2 linked regions of the Homo sapiens genome follow. The protein of the gene in region 1 interacts with the protein of each later gene in a biochemical or structural test. Each region holds a gene or a part of one and is shown on either strand. Other genes may lie near its edges.

What was found.
Region 2: the proteins of SERPINB6 (region 1) and F2 form a complex in vitro, tested with the Homo sapiens proteins (one study listed by BioGRID).

The regions. Positions count from the first base shown.
Region 1 is NC_000006.12:2,961,425-2,965,241, forward strand, and holds part of SERPINB6 (serpin B6), read right to left. Parts: intron 707-3,817; exon of another isoform or gene 1-706.
Region 2 is NC_000011.10:46,721,974-46,725,790, reverse strand, and holds part of F2 (prothrombin preproprotein), read right to left. Parts: intron 2,612-3,817; coding exon 2,506-2,611; intron 2,410-2,505; coding exon 2,273-2,409; intron 1-2,272. UniProt on the Homo sapiens protein: Thrombin, which cleaves bonds after Arg and Lys, converts fibrinogen to fibrin and activates factors V, VII, VIII, XIII, and, in complex with thrombomodulin, protein C. Functions in blood homeostasis, inflammation and wound healing.

The sequences.
Region 1 (3,817 bases):
AACACCAGTATAAACAAAAGTAGCCATTACACGGAACTGAAGCAAAATTGGGCCTATTTTTGGTTCTTTGGATTCTAGATCACAAGAACTGCCCGCTTATCAACTTGAAGAGAAACAATTGGTAAAACAGGGAAACTTCTAGGTTAAGAATAAGAAAAGAGGAGATGCCCCAAAGCAAGAAGCACAGCCTGTGAAGTCCGTGTCTCAGGACTCAAAGCCAGCAGACACCCTGACACGTGGGGTTTTCCCTGGCCTGGGGACATGGACTTCTGTCTTTGTCCCCAAGAGGGCTCAGCCCACGTGGAGAGGCTGCCAGGTGAGATGGCTCCTCCATAAACCAAAAAAAAAAGACAGAGGTTAAGTACCATGTCAGCTGGCCAGGGGAAGGTCCCACATGCTCCCCCAACCCCATCCTAGACTATTCTACCGTCAGCACACGTTTTCCCCTCAAATGCTGAAGGACTCTTACGCTTTTTTTTTTGTAGAGACAAGGTTCTTGCCACCTTGCCCAGGCTGCTCTCCAACGCCTGGCCTCAAGTGATCTTCCTGCCTCAGCCTCCCAAGGTGCTGAGATTACAGCCATGCACCACGCCCAGCCTAAAGGACTTTTAATTCAAATGGAAATGTCCACCTAAGAAAGGCTAATAATAAAACACTCCGTCTCCGGTAATATCCCGGAGAATCTGTTTCAGGCGCTGATCTTTATATCAGTAACTTCAACAAAGCAAAGCCACCTTTGTCTGAAGACACGCCCACTGGGGAGGTGCCTGTCTGGCCAGCCCAGGTTACACCATCTGGGGCAGAGGAGAAGTCGGTGCACATGAGTTTCACTGTGTCAGGGGATTTAATTTGAAATACTGAACTGGAGAAACCAAAGCAGGATATTCGGAGGAGAAGTCAGTGCACATGAGTTTTACTGTGTCAGGGGATTTAATCTGAAACACTGAACTGGAGAAACCAGACCAGGATATTCGGAGGAGATGGCACGAGTCAGGAGGAAGACAGGGTCTCTAGTCCTGGCTCTGGTACCCTGGGCAAATCACTGGACTCCTGATACCAGTTTCCTCTCTGTATGAGGAAAAGCATATACCAGATAATCTGGGTTCCCTTCCATCTCTAACATTCAATAATTGTTAATACCAAATGCAGAAGGAAGAGCAAAAATGTAGCTCAATTTTCAAAGCCCACAGTGAGGTCAGTAATGATATTCCATTTCTTAGTTGAAAACACTGCTGACAGCCGTGAAAGGTAAAATTCTATCTATGCCTTACATAAAAATTGCTGAGCAACAAAGAAACAATAAATCAAGGATGTCCTAGAGATTTAATTTTCTTAGCAGAAACTATGTTAGTCATTAAATAACTGAATATCCTACTCCTGATAAACACCCTTACGTCAAACAGCAAGTGGTACTTCCCATGCTTCCTTAACAAGGTAAGAATTACCTACTTCAGCAGCCACCAGCACAGCTGATGATAGAACATTAGTCCCTTAACTCCCCAAACAGGAACAAGATAAAAATATCTGTCGTCCCAACCTTGTGTAACTTTGTTCAGATAGTTCTGGCAAAGGCAAATACAACTCATGAAACATAATGAGAAAGGAGATTGTCAGAAAGGAGACAAAATGAGCACAGTTAGCAAACAATTTGATGGTCTACCCAAAAAGCAGCCAGAATCAGTAAAATACTCTTAAAACTGAAAAATAATGGAGTAACTGGGCTACTAAAAAAATAGGAAAAACAGACCCCAGTAGAAACACGTGCAAAGGACATTAACAAATTTACCCCCAAAAAAGAAAGACAATAGCTAATAATTATATTTAAAAGTTTCAACTTCAGAAAAAAATATCACTTTTTTGATATATACTATGTGCTAGGTCCACACTGAAAGACCCTTACCCTCTGAGATAGCTGCTGAGAACACCTACGTTTTATAAGCAAAGAAATCGGGCCTTAGCTCTTTAAGTACCATGTCTCCAGAGAACCCAGGGCAACAATGGCAGAATGACGGCTGGAAGCCAGGACCGCATGGCTCTGTAGTTCACTCTCTTAACACCATGGTGCACAGCCTTCCCAAAAAGCAATGGTGGAGAGTACATTAAAGATGCCTTTTCAAACCATGAACCTTGCAAATACAAAAACAATTCATGCTAATACTGACAAAGACAGGCAATCCTTCTCACGCCATGCAAGTAATACGGAGGCAGCAGGGACAGAGCTTGGCCCGTACCCACTCCCGTATTTTCCATACATCCCCCACGCCATCACACCTGCCCACCAGACCATGCAAACCAGGGAGGGAAACAAGATAAGCCATGTTCCACCCCAAATCTTACCCAAGGGAGTTAAGCCTGATGCCCACATGCATACAGGATCAGAACGACGATCCTGACCTCTTGCCTTGTTGTATTACTAAAACCCTCTCCTCAGGGGCTCATCTGCCATGCCCTGATCATGACACATCTGTGCTAACATGATGTTCCCCGGTGCCTGCCACTAGCGTGTGTAATGCTGCTGACACACCTCATGACTATCCATGTCACCCTAAAACACCAGGAACACCTGTCCCGAGGGCCAGCCCGGGAACTCCTGCCCCTGTGCCGCTGCCCTCCTGCTCCAGCATAAGCCCATTATAAAGCCTTGTCTGGGACACTTTCTCTGTCTCATGTCAATTTCCACTGCATGAGAATCTAAGAACCCACGATCAGTAACAATACTGTAAATTGGTACACCAGTATTTCCTGAGTATGATTTAGAATTATGTCAAAAATAAAAGTAAAATACAATAAAGTGAAGGAAGAAAAGAAAATGTCATGGAAACATTCATACTATCTGAATTAAAAATTCCACTTCTAGGAATTTCACTGAAGGTAAAACTCACAGGTTTTGTACATAATAAAACATTATGTACAACATTATGGGATATAAATAGGGCTAATAATAATAAAAATCACAGTAATGACATGGGAATACACAAGATTACATTAAAAAAGATATAAAACTATACATACAATTTAAATTTATCCATGTAAATTAGGAAAAAAGGTAAGTGTAGGCACAATTTACAGACAGAATAGAGGGAAATACTATACACCAAATGTTTCTAACGGTAATTTTTATGTTTTTTGTGTTTTTCTGGATTTTCACATTTTCTATAGCATATAATTTATGGAGGGGGTTGGTTAACTCTTCTTTTTATGAAATTACTATATATACATTCAGTTTAAAAATCAGGTGGTGTTAAAAGAGATGTTATAAAAGACAACAAGCTCCTTCTCAGCCCTCCCAACTCCCCAGAAGCAATCACTTCCAAACCCTTTGCTCTTTCTTCTGGTATTTACCACCATATTTCTACATAACGTGTATACTACTATTTTTGACCTAATAACTTTATCATGTTTTATTTTATGTATGTATTTATTTTTATTAGGGTAGGGGTCTCACGCTGTCGCCCAGGCTGGAATGCAGTTGCATGATCACGGCCCACTGCAGCCTCGAACTCCTGGCCTCAAGCAATCCTTTAGCGTCAGCCTCCTAAAGTGCTGGAACTACAGGCACCCGGCCAAATTCTAGACATTATCTATTGCCTTCCTAATCTAGAGGCCGAGGGCCCGGTCCCGATCCACAGGTTTGCTTTATTATCACTAAATAGCATTCGATGCTAAGCCAGGTGGTGGGATGGGAACCCATTTCCTTTTTATGTAATGCTGATTTGCCTTATATTAATAGTGCCTTTCCCCCCTTTCCTTAGTTTTCTATGTACTATGTATTTTCAAATTCTCCCCAAATGTTCTACAGGTCAGTCAAACCCTTTCA
Region 2 (3,817 bases), on another chromosome or scaffold:
GTGAACCCCGGTCTTGCTGCTTTCTGCCTGTGTGACCTCAGGTTACTTAACCTCTCTGGGCTTCTGACCGTTTGCCTTTAAAGGGGTTACTAATGCCACTTTTGCAGGTTTGTTGAGAGGATTAAACAAAATATACAGCATAAGTGTCTGGCACATAATAAACCAGAGATAGTAACCAGGTTTGGCCTCCTAGGCCATCTGTAATTAACTGGTAGTGGCTGCCTGGAGCTGCTGGAGGAGTCATGTTTTTATAGCTGCACAGCAGGACGCTTGCTGGGATCACTAGGCTGTTCACCTGGATGGGTCAATTTCTGCAAGCCTGCAACTTATTTATCATCAATGTGTGTGCGTGTGTATGGGGGTTGGGGAGTAAATAGTAGCTGTTTTTGTTGGGATAAACTTGCTATAAGACCAATTCCAGGGGCCAGGCGCAGTGGCTTACACCTGTAATCCCAGAACTTTGGGAGGCCGAGCTGGGCAGATCACCGGAGGTCAGGAGTTCAAGATCAGCCAGGCCAACATGAAGAAACCCCGTCTCTACTAAAAATACAAAAATTAGCCAGGCGTGGTGGCGTGTGCCTGTAATCCCAGCTATATGAGAGGCTGAGGCAGAGAATCGCCTGAACCCAGGAGGTGGAGGTTGCAGTGAGCCAAGATTATGCCACTGCACTCCAGCCTGGGTGACAGAGTGAGACTCCATCTCAAAAAAAAAAAAAAAAAAGGCCGGGCGCAGTGCCTCACCCCTGTAATCTCAGCAGTTTGGGAGGCCGAGGCGGGAGGATCACAAGGTCAGGAGTTTGAGATCAGCCTGGCCAACATGGTGAAACCCCGTCTCTACTAACATAAAAAAAAATTAGCCAGGAGTGGTGGCACACGCCTGTAATCCTAGCTACTCAGGAGGCTGAAGCAGGGGAATCGCTTGAACCCAGGAGGCGGAGGTTGCAGTGAGCTGAGATAGGGCCACTGCACTCCAACAGCCTGGGCAAGGGAGTGAGACTCCATCTTAGAAAGAAAAAAAAAAAAGACCAACCCCAGGAATGAGCAATGGGCCCGACAGGGATGCCTAGAGAACAAACACTAACCCATGTTTGTGGACTGGTAATCGGCACAAATTCTTTACCCCTGCCTGCATCCACATCCCTTGCTCTGTGATTTTACAGGCTGAGGTGTAGTTTACCTCTTGACCCTGGCCTTGAACATATACTTGCTCTGGCCAATGGAACGTGGGCAGGGCTGACTGTGCCTGTTCTGAGCCAGGCCTTCAGGACAGAAGACGCTTTTCTGTTCATTGTTTTCTGTGTCTGTCATCAGCATAAGAAGAGTTTTCCCAGGTACCTTCTTTCAGCCTCAGCCCCAGCATGAACGCACGTGGAGCAGATCTAGGCCCAACCCTCAACGAGGAGCCAGACTCAGCTGGACCCATTATTTGAATCAGAGCCACCCAGCCAGGGCCAACCTCCGTCAGTTGACCCTACAGACGCATTAGCGAGTGCAGCCACACCTGCCAACCCTCATGGGAAAAAGAAATGCTTATTGTGGTCTGCCTCAGGGAAGGGGTGGCTATAGCTACTTAACACACCAAGGAAATAATAATGACAGAATCCCGCAGGGCCAAACTGCACAAGGCTTGCTCTGTGATACTCAGAACAGGGTGTGTGGACTGAAATGGCTAGGGAGGGCTTCCCGGAGGGAGGAGTGCCTTGATCAGAAAGGAGGCATGTTTGGAATGAGCCACAGCCTGGACCATAAGGAAGTCAAGAGTGGGGAGGGGGAGGAGGAGGCTGGCAGATCCCCCCACTCAGATCCCCTGATTCCCTGACTTTACTGAGCAATAGGCACAGATATGATCTGAATGACTGACGCCAGCTCTGAAGGTGGCCAGCATCTTTTTTTTTTCTTTGAGACAGAGTTTTGCTCTTGTCGCCCAGGCTGAAGTACAGTGGCAGGATCTCAGCTCACTGCAAACTCCGCCTCCCGGGTTCAAGCGATTCTCGTGCCTCAGCCTCCAGAGTAGTTGGGATTACAGGCGCCCACCACCACGCCTGGCAATTTTTGTATTTTTAGTAGAGACGGGGTTTTGCCATGTTGGCCCAGCTGGTCTCAAACCCCTGACCTCAGGTGATCTGCCTGCCTCAGCCTCCCAAAGTGCTGGGATTACGGGCATGAGCCACTGTGCCTGGGTAGCCAGTATTCTTGGTTCCCATCCCAGGCTGCCAGGCCCCATGAAGCCCCCGGGCCTTGGCCATGGGCCGCCCCACTGCCCCCAGCTTACCACAGACAGGGATGCTGCATTCCTGCCTCCTCACGGTGGGGTCTGTAGTGTAGCACCAGGGTCCCGTGGTGCTGCTGTCGGGGTTGCGGCAGAAATTCTCCTGTAGGTCGGCCCCAGGATGGGTAGTGGAGTTGATTCTGGAACAGGAAATTGCCCAACAGGAGGCTGTTGGGCTTGAGGTACGCTTGCTCCCTGTTCTCAGCCCATGGTGGGAAGGCCGGCCCCTCACTCACTCAGGCTTATGTGGGTAGCGACTCCTCCATAGCTGGCACTCAATGCCTGACCGGGTGATGTTCACATGCCCTCGGTAGTTCGTACCCAGACCCTCAGCACAGTTACCTGCGGAGACCCCACCCCGGTCAGCCTTGGAGCCTGGGGACTTATTTCCTCTCTCCCTGCAAAGTTGTCTATCCCCCACCTCCCAGCTCATGCAGGTCCACAATCCTGAACCTGCATTCACCCAGCCCCTCTTCCTCTGCAACCAGCAGTTCTCCCATTCACTCAACAGTGGCCTCCAAATATTCGCTAAGTGCCTACCATATGACAGGCACTGTCGGGTGCTCAGTACACATCAACCAATAGGACAGTCACAGCCCTGCCCTCATGGAGCTTCCATTCTGTGGCTTCTCTTGGCCAGCAGGATGAAAAAGTGATGAAGGTCCTTTTCAACTGGCCCTGGTCTACCTGTCCCTGCTAGCTCAGCTTCTCATGCCTCTGGGTCTTTCCACGGATTGTTTCTTCTGACTGGAATGCCCACTTGTTTGTTCATCCATGCATCCCACCAGGCCAGGCAGAACTCTGCCTCTCCTGGGAAGCCATCTCTCATTTTTCTGGCAAACCAGACACTCATTTTCCTGTGGTCTCTTGGTGCCTTGAACAGAACTTTTCTTGCAATCACTTTATTGAATTATTTATTTTTATTTATGTATTTTGAGATGAGTCTTGTTCTGTTGCCGAGACTGAAGTGCAGTGGCATGATCTCAGCTCACTGCAACCTCTGCCTCCCAGATTCAAGAAATTCTCCCCCATCAGCCTCCCTAGTAGCTAGGATTACAGGCGCGTGCCACCACACCCCAGCTAATTTTTGTATTTTTAGTAGAGGTTGGGGGTTTCACTATGTTGGCCAGGATGGTCTCAAACCCCTGGCCTGGGCGCCCACCTCAGCTCCCAAAGTGCTAGGATTACAGGCTTGAGCCACCACACCCGGCCGCAATCATTTTAATATTTTGTATTTTTGTTCTCTTTTGAGATTTTGAATTCCTTGAAGGCAGAGACTGTATTTGATTCTCTTAAAATCCCCAGCACCTGATATAGTGCCTGGCACGTAGCAGGAACTTTGTAAAATGTCTGTTGAGTACGTAATTTAACAAATGAGGCTGGGCGCAGTGGATTACACCTGTAATCCCAGCACTCTGGGAGGCTGAGGCTGGTGGATCACCTGAGGTCAGGAGTTTGTGACCAGCCTGGCCAACATGGTGAAACCCCGTCTCTACTAAAAAATACAAAAAATTAGCTGGGCATGGTAGTGTGTGCCTGTAATCCCAG